3 separate regions of the Homo sapiens genome follow, and regions 1 and 2 are each linked to region 3. Evidence: fine-mapped expression QTL. A gene starts in region 3. Each other region holds a variant in brackets. All regions are shown on one strand. Distances are between the middles of the regions. Region 1 overlaps MYLK (myosin light chain kinase). Region 2 overlaps MYLK (myosin light chain kinase). Region 3 holds the start of MYLK-AS1 (MYLK antisense RNA 1).

Evidence for each region.
Region 1: its variant is fine-mapped to the expression of MYLK-AS1 in lung (TOPMed, PIP above 0.99). The same link has a PIP of 0.9 or more in cerebral cortex, hippocampus and whole blood.
Region 2: its variant is fine-mapped to the expression of MYLK-AS1 in unexposed skin (GTEx, PIP 0.95).

The regions. Positions count from the first base shown.
Region 1 is chr3:123,627,106-123,635,283 of GRCh38, forward strand. It overlaps MYLK (myosin light chain kinase), which reads right to left. Exons shown (of 34, transcript NM_053025.4): 30 at 2,369-2,521. It overlaps MYLK-AS1 (MYLK antisense RNA 1), which reads left to right. Exons shown (of 4, transcript NR_121654.1): 3 at 2,389-2,576; 4 at 3,391-3,716. Among named protein-coding and RNA genes, the nearest start is that of MYLK-AS1, 46 kb to the left of the region's middle. RefSeq lists an enhancer at 1,919-3,118. The variant G/A (reference allele first, on the strand shown) is at 3,539.
Region 2 is chr3:123,658,267-123,666,444 of GRCh38, forward strand. It overlaps MYLK (myosin light chain kinase), which reads right to left. Exons shown (of 34, transcript NM_053025.4): 22 at 7,953-8,080; 23 at 5,839-5,992. LOC124909421 (a long non-coding RNA gene) reads left to right here. Exons shown (of 2, transcript XR_007096038.1): 2 at 603-3,233. Among named protein-coding and RNA genes, the nearest start is that of MYLK-AS2, 27 kb to the right of the region's middle. The variant C/T (reference allele first, on the strand shown) is at 3,668.
Region 3 is chr3:123,581,847-123,590,024 of GRCh38, forward strand. MYLK-AS1 (MYLK antisense RNA 1) reads left to right here and starts at 3,667. Exons shown (of 4, transcript NR_121654.1): 1 at 3,667-3,707; 2 at 3,801-3,955. HACD2 (3-hydroxyacyl-CoA dehydratase 2) reads right to left here and starts at 3,207. Exons shown (of 7, transcript NM_198402.5): 1 at 3,027-3,207; 2 at 366-483. The coding sequence starts at 3,181. RefSeq lists silencers at 2,532-2,711, 2,722-3,331 and an enhancer at 3,392-3,691.

The DNA of each region.
Region 1 (8,178 bases), 45 kb after region 3:
TCTCCTCACTTGGTCTGGGTCACACTAACCAGAACCAGCATGGGTTGGTGTTAATGAAAGCCCAAGCACCAAGGAAGTGACTGGGCTCCATGGCCTGCTCTTGGGATCGAGGAAGAGTAAGTGCTGCAGGGCAGACGTTTCTGGGATTGGCTGGCACCCTATTCCAGGGTGGCGTCATTCTGCTCCTCTCATGAGGGCTGGGGCCCACAAAGCCTAATCCTCCTGCCACCCTGTCTGGAGGAGGGGAGAGTTAAATCCTAGGATAAAATCTCCGACAATCACTGAACTTTCATGTTTAATGTCTTACGGTGTTGTTGAATATCAGGTTTTTCCATTACAACTCAAAGAAGTAGGTCCTGCCTATAACCTATGAATTATGACTACTTTAGAACTGCGCTGAAACTCACTTCATCTTTCTGAAAGCTCTGGGGATCTAGAAACATTTTAGAGCCATTGCCTTAACTGTAACAGGACTAGGAAAGCCTAAAGAACCAAATGCTAACATACATAGAAAAATGACTGGAAAGAAGTATAGCAAAATGTAGTGAACTTTAGATAAAGGGATTATAGATGATTTAAATTTTATTATATTCTTCAAATCCTCTATAATTTTCATGCATTATTTTTATAGTAGGAAGGAATTTTTTTTTTAAGTGCTGATAGGTGGTGATTTCTGGTTGAAGAGAGGCTGGGTATAAGAGTTTATGGGAATTTAGTGTCTTGATCTATTTGAATAAGATCAGTTCTTTGGTGAATCCATTTTATGAGCACAGAGGGATCCAGTACAGCCTGTTACTGACTTAATTCAAGGTCAGATGAGAAAATAAGATATATACACACACAATACCTTGTTTACCAAATCTTCAGTGAATAAAGCTTGGATGACAAAAGCCATCCTTGTACCAGAGTTACTGAGGAGGTTTCCATCTCCTGAGGCACCTTGGGTGTGGGGGTCCCTCATATTGGAAGAGAATTTAGACTTCCCACAGTATCTCAGTTCTCCTTGGGTCATGCCCATTTCTGATACAGACTGTGACAGCAAAAGGCTAAAAAGATCTCATTGTCAAGGAGTGTAGAATGTGGCCTCTGGGGGAGTTTGGCCCTGAACTGGCTAAAAAGGACTGAGAGTGGGGTGCATCACAGGAAAGCCTGACAGAGCCATCTGAGACACTCCAATATTGCTCCTTCAGCAACTAACTGTGCCTTCCTGCCCCGAACAGCCATTCTTCCTCAGGGGAGCCATCGGCAGCCCCGCAAGGCTGCAAAGTCACCTGGGAGTGCAGAGCCTCCTGCCCGCCCTGGAGCCAGGCCCCTCCCCTTCTCTCTAGCACGCCACCCATGTCAACACCACCCTTCTTGGCAAGGCTACAACTGCTCCCTGGGATTGCCAAGTATAGCTCCAAGCTCCTCGGCACCCCTACAGTCAGGCCCTGCCTCATCTAGTCACCTATTTGCAGAGTGGGTGAGCTGCCCAATAGGCCAGCTGTTCTCACCTGAGTCCCACTGCTCCCTTTCCCTGGGCAGCTCTCCCTACACATGCAGAGCCCAGGACAGTTCCTTCCAGGAGATTCTGTCTAGGCACACCCACTGCCCACCTTCAGCCAACCTCCCACTCTGGTCTCCTCTACAACTCCAAGCTCCAATCTTCTACTGAAACCCAGAGGGCTTGAGTGCCTGACCTTTCCCCACAGCCCATGCATGCTGACCTCCCACTGTTCACTTTCCTATGTTCACAGCTGCAGCAGGCACAGGTGGGGAACCTCAACAGAGGAGGAGCTGGGAGAGGGCTAAGCCCAGTGGTCTGGGATCATAGCCTCCCTTTGGCCAGATGTTAGAACGTACCTGGCTGTATTCAAGCAGGCAGTTATTAAATAACTGAGATATAAAAAAACACTAAGCCAGAATAATAATAATAATCTGGGGATATGATCGGGACCCACAGAGAAGTTCTAAGATGCCCGTGTCCTCTGCTCTTGCTTGTTGAGAGGGTCCTTCCCCTGCAGCCCCTGAAGAGGGCTGTGGCTGGCCACAACTGTACCCAGAAAATAAGAAGGGTGGTCATTATTCACACAGAACAGCTGCCCCTTGCTCTGTAACGTGGTCAAGTGTCGCTTTTCAAGTCAGGTGTCTGAGCCTCTGAAGGTGAATCCCATGTCTAGCTCCAGGGGGCAGGGCCTAGGAAGTCGCCTCCCCAACCCACATGCATTCGGGTCTCTTACCATGCCCACCCTCCCTTCCTCAGGGAATGCTAGGAACGACCCAAGGCGGGGTGGCAAGGAGGGCACCCCAACAGGCAAAGGAATCCCCCTTTGCTTCCCAACACAGGGCAGGGAGTAGGGAAGCAAAGACTGAAATCCCAACTCATTACTTCATATCTTTCTTCAGCAGATTGCTGATGAAATCCTTGGCATCGTCGGAGATCTCATCGAATGCCTCGTCGTCGAAGTCCCAGGTGGCTGAGGTAACGTTGGCCAAGGTTTCGTTATCGTTGTCTCCCATGAAGGGGGAAAGGCCACTGACTCTGGAGAGACAAGAGCAGGACAGCAGGTGTGGCTAGGAGAGGGCGCGACGACCAGGTGAGTGGTAACTGAGGTCAAAGGCGAGGGTCGGCCAGCCTCCCCACCCCCAAACTCATGCTCTGTGGGCCTTGCACCTGCCTTTCTTCCACTTGTGGAAAGAAAAGAGGGTGTGGTTCACAGCCCTGTCTTTTCTTGGTCACCTGCCTCTTGACACCACCTACCTGTGAGGCTGAGGTGCAGCAGGTTGGCTTTAGATTACGGGCTTCTGCAGGGTACGCGGCAGGGCTGATAAGTCCCTCTGTCCTGGTTTTCTATTATTCCCCAAAGCCCAGGCTAGAGCCTTCTCCAAGCCCCTTCCTCCCGTGCTCCTGCCCCCTCTCTGTGGACTGGGCACATGGTAGTGATCACCACTGCACCCTTCTGTCCCCTCCTTCCCACCTCTCTCCACACACCTTCAGCTCCAAGAAGAGGGCCCGGCAAATAAGAGAGGCTCAGCAAGTGAAGTGTGTGCCCAATGGATAGATGGACTTTGAATCAGCAATGTAGGTTCGGGGAACTTGAGGCATTTATGCCAAACTAGAAAACTTCCCTATGAGGTGCCATGGCAGAGGACAGAGTGCAGCCTCTCCGCTTGCTGTATGGCCTTGGACAATTCCCTGATCTGTGTCAGTTTTCTCCTCTAAAATGGAGAAGCTGCCATTTAACTATAGGGTGGTCACTTCTTCATCCTCATCATCATCATGATGGCAGCAGACATTCATTGAGGTTTTTCTATGTGCCAGGCACTGGGTCAAGTGCCTAAAACAAGTGAACTCACTTAATCTTAACACTGCCCTATGATGCAAGTAATTCTTATAACTTTGTTTTACAGATGAGGGAATTGAGGCACAGCCCAGGCTCAAGTCACCTGCCCAAAGATTCACAGCCAGTGAGATTGGAAGCCAGGTATCTGCCTCTAGAGCCTGTCCTCTTAAATGCTATACTATCCTAACATTTCTGTAAAGATGAAGTAAATTGCA[G/A]TGTTCAGCACTGGCACCAGGCCTGGTCCACAGTAAGGAGGCGGTCCATGCCCGGAGATCTCATGCAGTTCTGCTGGGTTCCCTCCACTGCCTTACCAAGCTGTGAGTGCAGGAATGACTTTGTGACCAGCAGCTTAAGCCAAATAAACTTTATAAGGTAAAGAATTTCAAAACAAAATAGAGCAGATTTGTGGCTTACTGACCTTACCTCTCACCTCTGTGCACCTCACCTTCATAGCAACAACTCACCCCACTGTTCATGAGGGCCTTGTGAGTCAGCCTCATGGGTGTTAGACCAGCACAGTTGCCCACAGTCCCACCCTTAGACAGGCCCTGTGCTTGGTTTAATGCTCTGCTGCTGTCGTCTCAAGATTCTCAATAAGGTTTGAACAAGTGGCCCCACCTTTCATGTTGCAAATTGTGTAGCTGTTCCTGCCCTGATCTCAGCTGAGCCCCATGAGATGGGTCTGGGGGCCAGGCGTGGTGGCTCATGCCTGTAATCCCAGCACTTTGGGAGGCCAAAATGGATGGATCACCTGAGGTCAGGAGTTTGAGGCTAGCCTGGCCAACACGGTGAAGTCCTGTCTCTACTAAAAATACAAAAATTAGCTGGGCATGGTGGCAAGCACCTGTAATCCCAGCTACTCGGGAGGCTGAGGCAGGAGAATTGCTTGAACCCTGGAGGTGGAGGTTGCAGTGAGCCAATATCGCACCATTGCACTCCAACCTGGGCAACAAGCGAAACTCAATCTCAAAAAAAAAAAAAAAAAGAGAGATGGGTCTGGGGCCCTCCTGCCATCAACCTGTCAAGTTAGGGCTTTACCAATGTCCCTTCTCCCAAATGCTTATGAATCCATCATCATAAGCCAAGCACTGACAGCTTCAGGAGTAAGGCTTTGGTTGAGTTTGACAGAACAAACCCCACTTGAAATATTGGGAGAAAAAGCTTGCCATGGGAGGAACCCTCTGGTGAAACCTTTTGTAAAGAGAAGAAAGCTTTTACAATGTGAATTGTCTCATCCTAATCAACATATTTGTGTTTCTGAATAATAGATCTTTGTGGATGGGATTTTTTTTTAAAGCAAGACCCTGATTTATGTTTTAAGAAGGCAAAGAGAATCATTCTCGGTCATGTCCCCATGAGGGAAGGGTGGGCATTTACCTGTCCCCGAGTCTGCACTGTTATCTGCTGCTCCTTTCCCCTCTCTGGGCCTCAGTTTCTCCTTTTTCTTTTTTTTTTTTTTGAGACAGAGTGTTGCTCTGTTGCCCAGGCTGGAGTGCAGTGGTGCGATCTCTGCTCACTGCAAGCTCTGCCCCCTGGGTTCATGCCATTCTCCTGCCTCAGCCTCCCGAGTAGCTGGGACTACAGGTGCCCACCACCACACCCAGCTATTTTTTTTGTATTTTTAGTAGAGACGGGGTTTCACAGTGTTCGTCAGGATGGTCTCGATCTCCTGACCTCGTGTCGTGATCTGCCTGCCTCGGCCTCCCAAAGTGCTGGGATTACAGGCATGAGCCACCGCGCCTAGCCAGCTTCTCCTTTTATACATCAAGGGGACTAGGCTAGATTTCCTAGGGGCCTCCCAGCTCTCTCTGTCTCTGTGACCCCGACCCCCACGTGGCCCATGCAAGCCCCATCAGGAAGCAGCCTGTCTCTTGCCTGTCAGCCACCTGCTGCTTCTTTACATTTTCCACTGGAAACAGAGAGGGGGGAAGTCCGGCAGTACTCCAAAAGATGGCAGGAAAAGCAAACAACCCTGCTGTGGAATGCAGAAAGTTCCCCTTCTGCAAACCTCCCTTCCTTATTAGGAACTATAATCCTGCAAAGATAGGTCTTAATCTCTGCAACTCTGGGCACAGTCAGGGAGAGCCTCCTCGCCTCTGGCCTCTGGCACTCCTCCTTCCTGGCAGCCTATCCATCTGAAATACTCTCCTCACCCTGCCTGGCTCCTTGCCTGCCCAAGTTCCCCCAGCATTCTTCCTATTAAAGAGCATGTGTCTGGAATAAAAAATATAATACATACACAGCATGTTGACAAAGAGGGTGTTTGAATTTTCAGTAATGCTGTTGCTGGGTGGTGGGGTTTTACAGGATTTTTAAAAACCTTTTTGGGGAACTTTTTCTTTGTGGCAGAATTTGCATAAGGGATCATGTCTTTTAATTTTTTTTTTTTTTTTTGAGATGCGGTCTTGTTCTATTGCCCAGGTTGGAGTGCAGTAGTGCGATCTCAGCTCACTGAACCTCTGGCTCAAGCGATCCTTCCACCTCAGTCTCCTGAGTAGCTGGAACCACAGGTGCGCGCCAACACACCTGGCTAATTTTTTGTATTTTGGTAGAGATGGGGTTTCACCATGTTGCCCAGGCTAGTCTCAAATTCCTGAGCTTAAGCAATCCTCCCACCTCTGCCTCCCAAAGTGCATTACAGGCATGAGCCACTGTGCCCAGCCTTGTCTTTTTATTTATAAAATAGTCATTATTATTATTTCTTTTTATTTTTTTGAGACAGAGTCTCGCTCTGTCACCCAGGCTGGAATACAGTGGCGTGATCATGGCTCATTGCAGCCTCAACCTCCCCAGGCTTAGGTGACCCTCCCACCTAAGCCACCCAAGTAGCAGGGACCACAGGCGCACGCCACCATGCCCAGCTACCTTATGTATTTCTTGCAGAGATGGGGTTTTGCCATGTTGCCCAGGCTGGTCTCAAACTCCTGGGCTCAGGCCATCCACTCACCTTGGCCTCCCAAAGGGCTGGGAGTATAAGCATGAGCCACTGCGCCCAGCTAGATAACAGTCATTATTTGTTAAAAAAATCAACCGGTCAACAAATAATGTTAGCATTAAAACACCTCTTTATCTCCCTGGTCTTATCTAGTTTTTAACTAATGGATTGATCTGTTTTTCACAAAACTATAATCAGTCTGGGCAAGTCCTTGGATGCTTTACTTTTTCTTCACTGGATGTATCAAGTACAGCCAGACTCTACATGTTGATTTTTAGTGGTCAAATATTAGTCTTTGTGCTGATGAAACACAATGGTCATGAATGCAGGGCATTCTAATTTCTTAATTCTCAGCTCATTGCCAAAGAAATTCCCCCAGGGAATCTGATGTGGAAGCCTGTTTGGCTGTGGGGGCAGAAGGTTAGGAGAGCAGAGGGTGCAGAAATGCCTCTTGGACTACACTTTCTGTGTGTGTGTGTGCGTGTATGTGTGTGGGTTTTAAGAAATGGGGGTCTCGCTATATCAGCCAGGCTGGTCTTGAACTCCTGATCTCAAGTGATCCTCCCATCATAGCCTCCTGAGTAGCTGGGACCACAGGTGCACACTACTGCACCTGGCTTCTGTGTTGTGTTTCAAGCAGCAGACAGATGCCCCGACTGTACCAGTGGCCAGCTAAGGGGACCACACATCTGCTGATGGAACTACTGACTGCTAGGAAGGGGTTAGTCTTTTATCCATATTAGCCATCTGATACTCTGGTGGGAGAGCTGAGAGGGCTGAGTAGGTCCACAGGAAGAGCTGTGCATCATTTTGTGGACTGGCCGAGGAAGCAGCGACCTGGGGTTTAGTTGTGTTAGTAAAAGTTGAAGGTGGTGGCCGGGCTTGGAGAGGGAACAGGGATCCTAGGGCTGGAATCAGAGCGTATTTCCAGGCTCAGCAGCAGAGAGGGCAGCGGCAGCCCCAGGTGGGGAAGGCAGAGGTTACTGGATCTGGCTGAGGAGCCCTGCAGTCAGACCCTGGTCTGAGGAGGCCCCCGATGCCCCGGCACTGTGACCCCTCCTCAGCTGACTGGGCAGCTGTCACCAGAAGAGCTGACCTGCCTCCCCACCATACACACCTCTCCTCCCTCCTGGCATCTCCCGACCACACACCAGGGTGGGGAGGGACAGCTGACAGCTGTCTGCACCACGGTGGGTGTTGGACAAACAAACAAGCATGAATGGGAAGGCTGTGCTGCTGGGCCTGGTCAGGAAGAGGCAGGAGGAGGAAGCAGAGCAGCCATTGCTGGTTCGCTCTGGCTTGAGGGAGGCTGGGAGAGAAGGCATTGTGGAGTAGGGTGAGGGAAGGGCTCGGAGAAGAGCTGTTGTGGCCTCCCCACAGGCAGCAAGGAAGTACCAAGTCCAGGAAGTAGGGGAGGGAGACAGCAGGGGGAGGAGGGCTCTTAAACGGAGGTGGACTTAGGATTTCTCCCGTATGGAAGTGTGGCCTCCAGCTCTCTGGTATTCTCACTTCCTGCCAGAAACCACATGGGTATTGCTAACTTCAGAAGGTCTCTAGGTACTCACACAACCTACTATCTCCTTTCAGGATCCGGGGTAAGAGTGTGGGGGCTCCACGACCCCATTCTGCTCCTTCCCTATAGGGCCAGAAACTGCCCTGATGGCTGGGCTGGGTGGGAGAGAGTAAAGTCACATCGTCCTATGGTGACACGGTCTGTTGCCTTCCCTTCCAACTCCCTGGCCTCTCCATCTCTCACTGGCCCCAGAAAGGAGAACAGGAGGGGCTCTGTGGTACAAAGGTGGAAGTCGCCCTGACAGGGACTGCCCGACAGATGACTAGGCTCCAAAGAGAGGGATAGAGTGGGCCAGAGGATGCCATGAGGGCCACCAGAGAGCCTCTTTTGGGTGCTCCCAGCAGTGG
Region 2 (8,178 bases), 76 kb after region 3:
AAAATGAGCTGAGGACACAAATAAGAAGTGGCCCTTTTGGCTGGCTGCCTTCTCATTCAGATGACCTGGCCTCAGAACTAGCAGTACTGCCAACTTCAAGTCAAATCATGGTAGCCAATACTTTAATGAGGCTCTTGAGTTTTGCTGATTTTATTAGTTGCTTATCTGAGCAAAACTCTCCTATTTTTCAGATTTAGTTTTTGCAGATGGTTGGTTAGTTACAGATATCTGTGTTGTGTTCATTAACCCTTCATCTCCCCCAATGCTGTTTGATTTCATGAAGCCTCACAAACTAGCAATTGAAACCATGCTTTTAAGCTATGTCAACCCCAGCAAATTTGAAACTGGTTTGTTTGCCTGGCTTTCTCATTCAGAGAATGGTGCTAATATGTTCCTACCTCTTAGGGTTTTTGCAAGCATCAAGTAAGCAAACATAGATAAAGTACTTGACCGCTACTCTCCCACCTCCAGCAAGGCAGGAAGGCCAAAGGCAATGGCTGCAAATGACCCTGTGTATATGGAGAAGAAAAATCTGCATGTATATACATGTGTATATGAGTATATATACTCATACTCATATTCATTCTTGTCCCCTCTCCCAGCCCTGCCGATCCACATTCCAGCCCAGAATGCACTGCCCAGAAACTGTCTACCCCAATAACCAAAGCCCTGGGAATGATTCTGGGATTGTGACAGAGCCACTTCCCAGTGCTGGCAGTCATGCCAGAGGCCTCCTGTGATGGAAGCACTTTCACTGGCTGTTTAATATGTTCTCTTAGAAAAACTGTTTGTTCTGAGAGATATATTGGCCTTTTTTGAAACATTTCTGGTTTTGGCTAAGATGTTTATTACTCTAAACTCTCTTAAAGACAAGTGGTTCAAGTCCTCTCAAGACCCAGCTAAGGAAGTAAAAAAACCTGAAGAGGGATGGAAGACAGACCCACTATTCCTCCCAGAGAAGACTGCCTGGAGACCATGTGATTGGCCACAGTTGGAGTTGTGTGGGCTTATAAACGAATGCACTCTGCCAACTGATCTTCCTTCTGCTTTGGTCAAGAAAAGAAAACTGAGAAATGGGTGTTGCAGAAGAGGTGCCATTTGTACCCTACCCTGTTACACATGTCTCTTGGCTGAAAATGAGAACCTATACATGACATATGTGATACGTAAGACTTGTCACACAAGAGAAGATGCAAAATTTGGGGCGAGGGACTTTAATTCCAAGTAAAACTCCAACATTTTTAAGGAATTTGCTACCAAATTAAGGAGTTCAGAAAAGACCCAAGTCAGAAGTCCTAGGAGATTGGAGGCCTCCCACTCCTCCACCTGCCTTTAGAGCTGTGGGCTGCACCTAATGCTTTCTGTTCTTTCTAAGCTATGAGCCCCATGCAGTGGCTGAACTAGTAAAGGGATGAAAACTCTCAGAAAAGAACAGATGTCCTTAGAACAGGGAGCTCCTGTGAGCTTGTCCTCCACGGCGACACACTCAGACTGGGAGGGAGACCCTGGGCATCTCTGGGCAAAGGAGACTCCACATTTCCTCTGAATTCTCCCAGGGCTCCCTGGAGGCTTGACTAACAGAATAGGAAACTCAGCTCAGTCTAAGACAAGAGTCTCCAGTGGCACCAGCTCCAGGATTTTCTCCTCAGCAAATGTTCTAATTTCCAGGAAAATGGAGGATCCTGTCCTACAGCTTCCCACTAGAGTAACTGCTCTTGAGGTCTCTTGGTCCTCGCTTATTTGAAGATGACCAGTGGCTATGCCTAGCCCCACCTGGATGTCCCTTCCCTGGGACTTCAGCAGCTGCTGGAAGGGCCCCCACATGTCATCTACCTGGATAATCCTAGCCCTTGGGAAATGGGTCCTCAGCAGCTAAGGCATTTTGCTTATCAAGAAAACCCAGTAGTCAGTGGCAGAGCCAAAAGGAGATTCCAAAAAGCCTCTGGACCCTCGCTCCAGGGCTCAAGACTTTCCAGGCTATCAGGCAGAATGAGCTCAAGAAGGCATCTTGCTTAAGCCTGAGCTGAGCATTAAGATGGGAAATCATGCAAGCTCCAAACTCAGTTAGTATTTGGGGATTATTGGGTATTTGGGGTTCTCTCTACTTTGTTTTTCTCCTTTAAAGATATGAAAAGAGACCTGCTTTTCTCGTGCTGGGTGAGTGACCTTAAGGAATCCATCTGGGTATGCTGCTCACTGTCCCCTCCCTTATTCCCCACAGGCCAAGACCAGGGGCGCATGTGCAGGAAGAGGCTCTGAGCATTGCAAATTCCTGGGCTGCCTTTTAAAATATAATAATAATAAGTCTCCAAAATAGCTAAATATCACTCATTTAAGCTAACAGAGGGAAAGGCTAGTTTTTATTATTGTTTGAAAAATAGGAGCCAGAGAGGATCTGAAAAGAAAGTGGCCCTTTAAAGAATATACAATAAGAGAAGTTTGCTGCTAACAAGGAGGAGTTGTATTAAACTGGCCTTATTTAGCTGGTCTGTAAATGCATGAAAACTGTCCGGAGCAGACCAAGTGATTCCTGTTTTACCTCATGTACATTTTACATCTGCTTAATAAACCCTGATCAGGGAATACAGAGATGTCCCTGAAGATGCACAGGTAAATCTGAGCTTCATCCAGGTTTACTTTGAACTAATTCTAAGTGTACAGGCTCTGAATGAATGTGGCTTTGCTGTATCCATCAATGTGAGTCCTATTTTATTGAGCAATTCTATTCTTAGTTCTTTGAGGGGGAGGCAGACAGAAAGCCTCGGTTCTCCTCCATTCCATTCCCCTCCCAGGACGGCATTTAACATGCTGCTCCTGCCAGCTGGCAGACAGCCACGCCAATGGCCCTGTCAGCACTGGCTGCAGAGAATAAGAAACTAAACCATAAAAGGCCAGAACTGCAGCCCGCGTAGTGGTGATCGGAGGAGGGGAGTGCGTGGCACTGCGCAGGAGCTGGGCATCGTGGGGGCTGGGGGGAGGGAGAGCTTTTCTGTAGAAAAGCAGTTCAAAGAAGCTGACCCCAAAGTTGCTTAAGGAGGAGCAGATGAGAGAGAACATCAAAGAAAAGTTTAAACTGATGCTTGCTGATAGGACGGGAGTACAGGGCCAAATCAGTGCTTCAGAACAGATCTAAATGTACCAGTAAAGTGGATCACTAGCACCAAGCCTCCACAGGTTCCTGACTCCTTGGGAGGAAATTATTCAAATAAACACCTGGAGTCACCAAAAAGAGACAGAGTGAGAAAAGGGTTGTTCTTCTCCTTTAGAAATGAAAAACCCATTCCCTGACCCCTTTGTACACCAGTCTTCCCCGATCTGAAACTTCTAACCAAAAGAAACAAAAGAACAGGGTCAGAGGAAGGAAGACAAAGGGAAAAGAGGGGACATGGGACAGGGTGACGGACACTGAGAAATGGCTGAAACAGAACACAGGGTAAAGAAACAAGGCCAGGGAGAGGAACAGAGCAAGAGAGAAGGTAAACAGAAATATGGACAACTGGGGGTGGGGAGTGGATGCTGGAGCTCAGTCCTCTGTGAATTCCCTCTCCCGGGTCCCCTGTGTCCAGGGACAATCTTCCAGGGGGCTTTGCAGTACTTCCTCTCTGGGGAGTCGGGCCAGGGTGTGGAACCTGTGGTCTGTTCTGGTAGCTGGCATGGGCATAGCTCA[C/T]TGGCCACCTCATTTGTCTTCCCAGCTCTGTATTACTTTGACCTTTATCCTCGTGTCTTCCTTATTCACCTGGTTGGACAAGGACTTCTTCTTCCCCAGCTGCTTAGGGGCTGAAGGGAAGTGCTACAGGGCTTCCTAAGGCTCAGCATGAGAAAAATGGAGGCACAGACATCAACAACTCTCTGGCATGTGGACAGCTCCCCAAAAGGCTTGCATGTCTCCCCTCAAGATGAGTTTTGCAGCCAGAGTGTTCCTTTACCTTTTGGGACATTCTGTACCTACTTCACACTCCCATGAGTGGCACTGGAGGACAAGTGTTTGAAAGTTTAGAGCTAGTTCCCACTTAGCCTCTGATGCACTATGTTACTTTGTTCAGATTAGGCCTCAGTTTCTCCTGCATAAGGCTGGAAACATCAGTCCTGTCCATCCTAGTCCTAAGGTGATGATACGAGATGAAGATAGGGGAGAAAAACTGCTTGAGAACTAAGTCAGGGAATCACAGAATGTCAGAGAACAAAGTCAAGGAATCACAGACCACCAGAGAACAGAGGTGAGGAACCATAGAATGTCAGAGAATAGAGTCGAGGAATCAGAATGTCAGAGAATAGAGTTGGGGAATCATAGAATGTCAGAGCTACAAGAGACCTTAAGAGTCAATGTCTACAACTTCTAACTTCATATCTAGATACTTCCATAAGAGAGATTCCAGTGGAAGACTTCTAACCACGGTAGCCACACAAGCCCTGTTACCAACAGATCCTTTTGTTCTGTGTGCCCACGTGTGTGTGCACCAGGAACACACAGGAAAGGCTAGTTTGCAGGAAGTTAAGGTTGGGATCAGCACACACAGCTGAGAGTTTTGTGCACTGCATAAAAGGGGTCTAGTGGGGGCATCTGGGCCAACCTGTCCTCCCCAAGGCCAGGTCATGAGTTCTGGGGTGAGGCTGGGGGTGCTGTACCCTTTTCACTCTGCCCAGCAAGGCCCCTTTTTCTAATTTTCACAAATGTACCCTATAAGCTTGAAAGCCAAGGACAAATGGAAAACCCGCTCGGGTCTCGTGCACATATCAATAAATGCCAGGTCAAAGGCTTTCACATGCACAACATATGAAGGCCCACAAATGCATGAGGCATAGAGTCTACTCTCTCTCTCTGTCTGCTCCTCTGCCTGCTCATTCTTCTGCTGTCCCAAGCACCTGCCACACGGGGAACAACTGGAGCAGAACATGACAACAGCGGGAGACTGGTTAGAAAACTCTCTTGATGCTCCAGGAGAGAGCTGACCAGGGCACGAAGACAGTGTTAAGGGAGGAGAGGAAAAGTGAACTTGAGAATCAGTCTGGAGACAGACCCCACTCAATCCTGGGATGAAGGAAATCCTGGTATGAAGGTAAGGAAAATCGAGTGGAGTCAGGATTGGGAGGTCATGGTGACCTCAGAAGAACAGTCCCTGCAGACTAATGGGGCGTGGGGGTGAGGCCATAGGCAGCTGGAGGGTGCTGGGGGGTGAAGAAGCGGAAGTGCAGTAGAGACTCACCCCTGTCAGAGAGAGAAGGTAGGGTGGCTAGAGTGAGAGAGAACATTGCAGGAGTTATTAATGCCTGTGCATCTGGCTAAGATGGCGACACTTACGGGCTGCTGGGAGGAGCCAGGAGAGAGGAAGAGGTTGAAGAGAGAAGTAGGGATGGTGGAGCCCCCAAGGACCTGGGGTCCAGAGCACAGGAGAAGGGAGCAGCCTTTGGTGGGACCAAGGTGGGCCATCCCCAGAGCCTGGAGGGTGGAGTCAGGATGGGGACAGATACAGACACCTGTGGCGTAGGGGCCAAGAAGTTGACCAAGTTTATGCCTCATGTCTCTTATTTCTCAAATAAGCTAGATGCCAAGGCCTGAGGGCGGGGAACTCCAGGAACAGCTATCACAGAGAGGTGTTGATAGAGACAGGGAAAAGGATTTCTGCCCAGCCTTGGCCCCTCTGCTGAGCCTGGAGGTCAGCAGGGTCTAGCAGGGAGTCTGTGGGTTGCCGTGATCTTCTTTCTGTGGTGCCTTATAAATCAGGCACAGGAGTGGTGAGAGATAATGGGTGATGAAGTCCTGAGGCCCACGTATCTTGCCTGGGGGCTCCCTGCCTTCCCCTTGCCCCAAGCTCCATGCCACCCAGCCACCAGACTCACCCACGACAGTGAGGTTGACCTGGGCCTGCCTGCTGCCCAGCTTGTTCTCCACCAGCAGTGTGTAGCAGCCGCAGTGCTCCTGGCGCGCGGCCAGGATGGTGAGCTTGCTGCCATTCTCGCTGTTCTCCACCTTCATGTGCTCGCTTTCCTGGATCTAGGGGCGGAGGATGGAGCAGGTGCTGGAGCCTTGGGCCCCTGGGCTAGGAAAGGAAGGGGGCTCCTCCCCATTCCCTACTTCCTGAAGGATGCAGCTGGACAAGCTGTGGGGGGGCTCAGTCTGGTCTGGACTCTGCCCTTCTCCCTGAGGCCCCTTCTCTCCTACATCCAGAGTCCAGCTTCCCTGAGGGTGCCAGGTCTGGGGTGGGCAGGGAGGGTGTGGAGCAGGGGCAGGATGGATGGATGAACTAGCTGAGCACTCACTGCTCCCAGAAATATCCTGGTCTCCCTCTACCTCTCTGGAATGGGATGATAGGAGAACACATCTCAGCAAAGTCATTCACAAGATCCACTCCAGTGGGTTCTAGCCTCTTCTGTGCTGTCCAATGCTGTAGCCACTAGTCACATGTGGCTATTTAAATTTTAATTAGTTAAGTGGAAACAACCCAGATGTCCATCAACTGATGAACAAATAAACAAAATATGGTCTATCCTGACAATGGAATATTTATTATTAATTCATTGAAAGGAATGAAGTACTGATTCATGTTACAATAAGAATGAGCCCTGAAAAGAGTATGCTAAGTCAAAAAAAGAGAAAGCTACACAGAGAGAATGACATACTGTATGATTCCATTGATATGAAATGTCCAGAATATGCAAATCCATAAATACTGAGAGTAGATGAGTGGTTGTCAGGGCCTGGGGGAAGGAGAGGAATGTCTGCTAATGGGTCTGGGGTTTCTTACTGGGATGATGAAAGTATTCTAGAATTAGATAATGGTGATGCTTGCACAACCTTGTGAATCTACTGAAAACCACTGAAGTGTACACTTCAAGAGGGTGAATTTTATGGCATATGAATTATATCTTAACAAAGCTGCTATAACAATTTTTAATTAATTAAAATTAAATATTCAGTTCCTCAGTTGCACTAGCCACATTTCAAGTGCTCAATAGCCCCATGTATATGGCTGGTGGCTGCCATATTGGATAGCACAGAGATAACACTTTCATCAGGGCAGAAAGTTCTGAAGGACAGAGCTGGGACTTGGCTAAATGTCTCTGAAAAGTGATGAGATTCCATCTTATTTCAGACAACAGTAGTCCAGATGTCGCTCAGGGCAAACATGCTCTGGGATGCTAAAGGCAAACTTCTCATTTCCATCTTTTGAGACCAACCCTACTTTCCTCCCTGTTAGTACTAAGTGTTCATCTCTGGGGCTAGGAGAATTTGAGTGATTTTAAAACAGAGTAACAGAGGGCTCAGAATAAATCTTCACAACTTCCCACTCCTGTGCCAACCCATCATTCCAGGGTCTCTGCTGATCATGCATACAGGCACACACTACCACCGTGGATTGGTGGAGCTGCTGGGCTCCCCAAGTCCTTTCAATGCTGGTTGTCTAGAAATTCAAACATTGTTCCATAGGAACCATTATGATAAATTGTAGCTAGATTTCTGGGTCAGTCAGACACAATTCTATTTATCATACAATTCTTCTATCCAAATACTCACATTTGCTTTTGTCCCTTCAGCATGTGGCAAGTTTAAGTGGTTATAACAGACAGGAATCAGTGGGCTGGCACAGAATCACAGCAAGCTCATGGAGTCTAAGGGTCATCTTGGGTCACAGGCTCGACTTTCCTGACTCTGAATAGGATTCTAGACTGTGCTATCAAACCAGATGAGGGACATGGATGGTTTCTACTTTTCCCCTCACACTTCTATTACACAAATTGTCTACAAAGGCGGGGATTATTGGTAGATTCAGAAGCAAAGGTTAACAAGAACTCAGGTTTGGCAGGTGAGCGATGGGTAGGGGAGTGGCCTCTCCCATTTCTAAAGCTACGAAGAGTGAGGCCATCTCCAGCACGGCATTTCTCATCCCTTTCGGTCCAAAGGCTGTACGGATTATTCCCAGCACCCCCAGTGCCCACCCCATACCGTCACTGACCTGCTTTCGGAACTTCATCCAGGTACAGGTGATGGGCTGAGTGCCTGTCACTTTGCCAAACAGCTCCACTGACTCTCCTGCGCGTACCTTCTGGTCCTCAGGGAACTGGATGATCTGAGGGGGCATTGCTGAGGGAGGACAGGGAGAAAGTGAGCGAGGCAGAAGGGTCTCAGGCATTCTGATCACATTCGACGCCATTGTCCACAGTGGTCTGTTGGCTTCTCTC
Region 3 (8,178 bases):
CACTTCCAATATCCTACACCCACCAACTTCACTATTTCTATTACATAAACCCTGAAAGCATCTGATTTTGCCAGTGCTTCCCCAGGATGTCCCTAGAATTTTTAAAAATCCTAATATAAGCTTGCTTCAGTTGATTTCCCAAAAAAGTCGAATATAAAATACATTCAAGGTAACCTAAGTTAAATGAGATTCTACCCAATCTAGAACATCAAAAAGCCTAGGTATCAACACTTTAGTATGTGAGGAGGCAAAATTTCAAAATTTAACATGAATCCAAAGGGGGTATGCTACTTCAATATAATTTAGTTGCATGTTTTTCTTCATACCAATGGAAATCAATAACAACAATAAATCTCAGGACCTACCTCCAATAAGGCTCCAGTTTGAAAGAATTTCAAAGGCTTTTCAATTGAATAATAAAGGCTATGGTAGCTACCCTTAGCCAGGTATGCTCGGACCAGACCAACCGCTATAACCAGCCACCTAGTAAAAGAGAAAACAGCAATCAGGAAAAAATAAAAATAAAAAAAGTAGCATTTAGGTTAACACACAGCTGTGGCAATAAAAGATATTGCTAAAGGTGACCTCAAGCATGAGTAACCTGGATTTATGGACGATAGCTCTCAAATGCCAAGCTGTAATGCACTGAAATGTTGCAACACCGACAGCACCTTACCAAGAGGGCTCAGTGAAAGCATAGTGGCACCTCACCCATCTGGAGCTCATTTTTTTGGCAACTTTGCTATTGAGATCAAGGCCAAAAGGAAAGGAATAAGCTAAAATGGTCCTTGTGCCACTAAATCAGGTGCCAAGAAAATCTAAGACGAGAAAAAAACAGTTAAAGGAAAATTTTAAACAGCCTGTGCAGTTAAAGGGTTTTTAATAATTACAGGGTGGAAAGAAGATGCTTTAAACTATTGTTATAATTGTCTCACTGGAACAATTACCCATACCTTAAAATCTATCCTTTTAAAATTACGAATAAAGGGCTCTTGCTAAAAAAAAAAAGTTTTTTAGCCAAATTTCCTAAAATCAATGCAGAAATGAAAGCCAGATCAATACAAACCACGAAACAGGAAAGCACTTAAGCATACAGCTGTGAATGTTATATTTTTGTTCCACTGTCCTTCTCAAAAATAAACACAATGTTTTGTTAAGTTCCATAATAAAACAAATGGACCTTTTTATTAAGGTATGTCTCCTGGAAGGATTTAGATAAATGTATAGTATCAACTAGGCAATGGGGTGTGTGTGGTCTATGCTATTTCCAAAAACTATCACATAAGGACATCAAGTAAGAGTTTGTAAAAGAAGAAATTATTTAATGGTGTAACTGGTACAACCATTAACAGCCTTAAAAAAAAAGCTTACTTTGCTCTCACAATCCCAATTTATCTTCCTGGTTTAAGATACCACTCCTTACCCTCCACCCCATTCTCTATGTTCATTGCTCAGGAATAGACTTCTTTCTTCTTACCAATGTACCTCAAAATCCCTCTCCAGTCCAATGCCCTCACCGGCTCTTGCTAAGACAACAAGAATTTTATATATAAATATTAATACACACAGTGAGATTCCTGGATGTTTTTTTAAAAATCAATCTATGTGACCACTGATGTGATATAAAGCTTGTATCTGTACTAGTTCTTCATTGACCTGTGAGTCAAGAGAAATGATTTCTAGATCTGGAACTTCTACTAACAAGTTCTATGATCTCATGCAAGTCACAACTTCTCTGAGCCTAGGTTCCAACACCTACCATTTCTAATACTAGCAATACATATATGATCCTCCCACGATATATTTTCTTCTTCGTGAAAAAAAAGCAAGGTGCTGAACTGTAAAAATATTAATATATTGGCATTTGTCTTATTTTAAAAAGGGATAGGGGGATGTATAAACATATTTGCTTGCATCAGCATCTTAAGGATACACAAAATTAACTGCCTCGAGGGAGGGGAGCTGGGTAGAAGGGAAAGGTGGGAGGAAAGATTTTCACTGTATTCCCTCATGTTTTTCATTTTTAACCCTAACAATGTATCACCTACTTTAAATAAAAATGGATGTTCACTATACAATTCTTTCAACTCTTCTGTATGTTTGAAATTTTTCATAATAAAATGTTAGGACTTCTTAAAAAATTACAAATGAAGATAACTTAAAAATATATAACTGTCTGATGCTGTGATCCTCCTCACCAAAATGACAAGATAAAGAATTGCAGAGCTGAAGGAACCTTCATCACCCAGACCAACCCTTTAGTTTTACAAATGAAAAAACGGAGGCTAGAGAAATAAGATGATTTATCCAAAGTCACACAGCTAGTTAGTGGCAGAGCTTGAACTAAAAACCCGCCGGGATAAGGGATGCACTGAAATGAAAGAGACAGAAGATGGGTAAAACCGTTTCGAGGGTCCATTCTCCCCCTTTCCAGTAACTCTGCCTTCTACTCCCCAGTTTCTTCCCCACCCCAACCCATCCTAAAAGTCTAAACTCATCTAAAGCCTAGCTCTGCTCATGTCGCTGGCCAAAAACTTTGAACGCTTTCCCAATACCTTTCAGATTAAAGCGCAGCCCAGATTTTGAAAACAGCCGCCCAAATGAATGGTCACTCTGCAGCCACAGCTCCTCCACTCCCCATGCTGGCGCCGTTCAACATCCGAATCTGGCCGCCCAGGACGGGCTCCGCGCCGCAGGTAGTCCGGCCGCTGCCCCCGGCCCCGCACCTGTGGCCAGCCCCACCTTTCCTCCCGCGGCCCTCGCGAGCCAGCGCCCGGCAGCCGTCCCCGCGCCCCAGTGCCTGGGAACTTGGCTCGACCCCCAGCGCAGGAGGGAGCTCGCGGGCAGCCACCGGGGCCGATTCAGCGCTCGGCCGCCCTCAGCGCCCAGGTACCGGGTCCCGGGCACCCCCCGCCGGGAATGCACTGCCTGCGGCGGGCCGCGCCGATCCTATCCGCCCCGCCGCTGGCCGCAGGGCTCCCTCCCCGGCCGCGCTGGCTCCCCGCCTCCCCGAGCCCCAGCCTCACCCGGCTGTCATCACCACATTGTAGATGACCAGGTACGCCGTGGCCAGGGGCCCCGGGCCCTTCTTCTTCCGCGTGCCGCTGGCGTCCCCGGCCCCGGCCCTGCCACCGCCGCCCCCATTCCCCTTCGCTGCTGCAGTCGCCGCCACTGCCGCCATGTCAAGTGCCCGAAGCCCGCTCTCCTAGCGCGAGCGGCTCGGGCCGGACTACGCGAGGAGAGGGGGCGGAGGAAGGGACGAGGGGCAGGCGGGGCCAGGGCCGCGGGGCGGAGCCGGGACAGGGTCCACGGCAGCCGCCATCTTGGCTGAGGGCAAAGACGCTCCTGGCGCTCCCGTCTTTCGGCTTGCCTCAGTTGCCACTGCCATCTTGGATCAGGGTAATTCCCGCCTCTTGGGCGCTCCCGGTTACAACCTCGGCGCCATCTTGGATTAGTTCAATGTAGCCACCCTCTCCAGGCCCGCTGCTTCTGCCAGCTGGATGTTGCGTCGTCCCTCGCTATTCGCCCTCCTATAATCACTGCTTCCATGTTGAATCAAAACAATTATGCTTTCGTTCTCCCTTCTTCAATTGCCCTATCTTCACACCTGAACACTATTGCTCCGGTATCCTGCCATTTTGGATCAGGGCGGTTGACGGTGGATTCACTTCCCATCAGCCCTTGAGGCTGCAGGGACCAGCCCTTTGGTAGGTGCGCTTTGCTTCCTAACCCGTTGCCGGGTTGGAGATTCCACCTCCGAAGTTTTCTTTCTGACTTTTGATTTTACATTCCTAGTACAGTGGAGAAGCCCAGGCGGCCTAGAATCCAGTGTCGTCCGTGAGTGCTTGGCTGGTGTTCAAGTGCATCTTCCAGCCTGAGACCGCGTGGACTCGCTCATCGTGAGGGCGAGAGGAGGATAAGCCCATTGGGCTGTCGGCTGAGAGTGAGGTGCGGGGTAAGGGAGTAGATTTATAGCTATAGTGACTAAAAATAAAAGGATGTTGGCTTAGGTGGAAAACCTCTCTGCTTTGGGAAGCTGGAGCAGCTTGTGGGCATTGCTTCAACCAGCTGATCCCACTTTCCATTCATTGCTTTGTTTCAGGAGGTTCTTTATTTGTAAACGTCCCCTGCAATTTTTTACACACCCAAGCAGCTCCTTAAATGTATTACTGTATATGTGGTAGTATAAAATATTTATGGGTTCATTCCAGCAAGTGTTTATGGAGCGTCCACAAAGTTGCCCTGGAGTTCATGGCACTAAGTGAAAGAGACAAAGTCGTCAGTCTCCCAGGGATTATATAGAGCAGCGGCCCCCAACCTTTTGGTCAACAGGGACCGGTTTCGTGGTGGGGGGGTGGATGATGGTTTCAGGATGATTCAAAGGCATTACATTTATCATTAGATTCTCATAAGGAGCACACAACTTAGATCCCTCCAATGCGCAGTTCACAATAGGTTCCCCGCTCCTATGAGAATCTGATGCCACCGCTGATCTGAGGGAGGCGGAGCTCAGGAGGTAATGCTCCCTTGCTTGCTGCTCACCTCCTGCTGTGCCTCCTGGTTCCTAACAGGCCAGGGATTGGTTCTATCCGCAGCCTGGGGCTTAAGGACCCCTGAGGGAACCAGACGAAAATGCTCGTATTAGTTGGTGAAAAGTGGTATCAGGAAGTTATTACAATAATCCAGCCATGGTGATAGTGGTGTGGGCCAGAGTGGTGGAAATCGAGGTGATGAAAACAACAATGAATTCTGTGCGTATTTTAGAAGTAGAATTATAAGATTTGTGGATATGTTAGTTTTGGAGTGTGAGGTCAAAGGCGTTTTGAGCAACTTGTAAGAAACCATTTTTAAGGCGGAAGTCGGGAATTTTGTTTTTTATATGTTGAATTTGAAATCCTTATTAAACATCCAAGTGGAGAGGCTGGATAGACAATTAAATTTAGACCCTGAGGTTCGGGAAGGAAGTCCAATGGGCTAGAGATATAAATTTGAGAGTTGTCAACCTAAAATAATAAAAAAGGTAAGAATCTAGTTTAAAGGAAGTTTATTCAAGCATAAAGGTTGAAGATGGCTACCTGGGAGCATAGATTCAAGTTACCCTAAATATACACTCTGATTAGCAGCGGTTATGAGTGGGTTTTTAAAGGAAAAAGAGGCAGCTTCTAAGTTGTTTACTAAGAATTTACATTAAAATTACATTAGCTATTGATTGGCTATAAACTATTCTTTGTATCACAGATTCCAGGAACATGAAGATAATGGGTGAGGCTGCTAGTCAGGAACAAAATGTCTAAACAGTTGCCCCCAGGCAAACTCTTGTCTCTGGGCCTGATAAATTTTTGCATACTTCACATAGCTCAGACAGCTCAGAGCTGTTTGAGGTATTATCTTTTCTCAGAGTTCTGAGGGTGGTGGTGGTATTTAAATCCATGACACTGTAATCACCCAATACGTTCTTCCTTCCCACTGCACAGACAAAATCAATTCATAGAGACCATGGCATTGCAATAAAGAATTTAATTGACATGAGATAGGTCTTGGAGATGGAGTTATTACTCCAAATCTCCCCCAAAATTCAGAGGGTAGGGTTTTTCAAGAATAGTTTGGCTAAGATCTGAGAGCTATAGTCAAAACAAAACAAAACAAAACACCCACCCCCCCCCCAACACACACACAGTTTGGCAGGCAGGAGGCTGGAGGAATGGGTGCTGCTGATTGGTTGGGAATGCAATTATAGGGGTGTGGAAAATGGTCCCCCTGCACTGAGCCTGCTTCTGGGTGGAGGCCACAGGACTGGTTGAGCCAAGAGTCAAAGGTCTCAGTGGGGTCGTCAGCCATCCGAAATGCAGAAGCCTGAAAGTTTATCTCAAAAGGCCAATCTTAGGTTCTACAGTAGTGAACTGGGGAAGCTGCAAATCTAGTGACCTCTGGAATAGTGGCTGGTAATCATTTAACTTAACAAAGCCTATGTCTTAGCAGAATTCAAGCTCCTCTTATCCTTCTAACCTGGTGGCTTTTCATTAGTTTTACAAAAGTGGTTTAGTTTTGGGGAGGGGCTATTATCGCTTAAACTGTAAACTAAGTTTCTCCCAAAGTTAGCTTGGTGCAAGCCCAGGAATGACCAAGGGCAGTTTTGGAGGTTAAAGATGAGAAAGGAAAACCCCAGATTCACTGAGCCAAAGGGAAAAGTCAAGCTGGGAACTGGGTCACACAAACCTGCCTCCCATTTGGTTCCTAAATAAGATAGCTACAAAGATAAAAGCTATATACTTCCCTCACATTTTACCCACAAGGAAATTCCTTTTAGGCCCAAAGATCTTTACTCTAAAACAGTTCTGTTGAATTTCAACCTGGCAATGTAAGTTGATATCTTCACAGGTATGGGACATAGGACAGAATTCAAAGTCTTCCCTCTCCTCACCTGAGACAAATGCATATCTGATTGCTTCCTCTGCCCTATTGTCTACGTTATCTTATGTAAAAATACAGATTAACTGAGCCAGACTAAGGCATGAATATTTCCTCCACTCCCCACTCACATGAAAATTGTGTATTCAAAAGGATGCAACTGTTTTATCTTTTTATCTACTGACACAATTTAAAAATATTTCTTGGCTGGGCGTGGTGGCTCACGCCTGTAATCCCAGCACTTTGGGAGGCCAGGCAGGCAGATCAGGAGGTCAGGAGTTTGAGACCAGCCTGGCCAGTATGGTGAAACCCCATCTTTACTAAAAATACAAAAATTAGCTGGGTGTGGTGGTGCGCGCCTGTAGTCCCAGCTACTTGGGAGACTGAGGCAAGAGAATCGCTTGGAGTTGGAGGTTGCAGTGAGCCGAGATTGCGCCGCTGCACTCCAGCCTGGTGACAGAGCGAGACTCTGTCTCAAAAAAAAAAAAAAATTTCTCTTCCCCCAGTATCCACCCTTTCCCCTTTAAGTACTGAAGCCCTCAAAATCATCTTTGGAGATAGGCATATACCTGCCTCCCTGGCATGCATCCTTTACTATGGCAAATAAACCTCCTAAAATGATTGAGACTTGCCTTGATCGTGTTCTTTGATTTACAGAGTCAAGGTGGGGGCTGGTTAGATCAGATCTCTCTCAGTCATAATTTTCTCACTGTTACAATTTTTGCAAAAGAAGTTTCAAGACCTCAAGAGATGAAGTGAGAGGCATAAGTTGACAATTGTCAGGGTCCCATCCTTTCCCGCCATGGCAGATTGTTCAGAGATTCTGTTGCCTTGTTTTCCTGAAATTTTTTTTTTTTGGAGACGAAGTCTTGCTCTTGTCCCCCAGACTGGAGTGCAATGGCACACTCTTGGCTCACTGCAACCTCCGCCTCCCAGGTTCAAGCAATTCTCCTGCCTCAGCCTTCCAAGTAGCTGGGATTACAGGTGCCTGCCCCCACGCCCAGCTAATTTTTGTATGTTTAGTAGAGACGGGATTTTGCCATGTTGGCCAGGCTGGTTTCGAACTCGTGACCTCAGGTGATCCACCTGCCTCGGCCTCCCAAAATGCTGGGATTATAGGCATGAACCACCACACCCGACCTTCCTGAATTTTTCAAAGAGCAAGTTGGTGAGCCCAAATTGCACACTGTGATCAGAGGGCAAAAAAATTTCTTTGCAAAAGAAATAAAGAAGTGAACCATTTTACAAAACCAAATAATCATTCATCTAAAAGCTTCTTTCATTCATTTGACTGATTTTTTTTTCAATATAATCTACTTAATGGGAAAGTAGGAGGAGGCAGGAATGCATAAAGTTCTGTTCAGTTGGAAATCAGTTTAAAACTCAATGTATCTTCTTGCAGTCACTTAGGCCCAACTCCAGTCTGTTGTTTATAGCAGCAATCTCCAACCTTTTTGGCACCAGGGACTGGTTTCATGGAAGACAATTTTTCCATGGACTGGGGAGGGAATGGTTTCAGGATGAAACTGTTTCACTTCAGATCAGCAGGCATTAGATGGAGCCTGCAACCTAGATCCCTCGCCTGCATGGTTCATGATAGGGCTCGTGTTCCTATGAGAATCTAATGCCGCTGTTGGTCTGGCAGGAGGTGGAGATCAGGTGGTAATGCTCACTTGCCTGCTGCTCACCTCCTGCTGTGTGGCTGGGTTCCTAACAGGCCATGGACCTGTACCAGTCTGTGGCCCAGAGGTTGGGGACCCCTGCTCTACA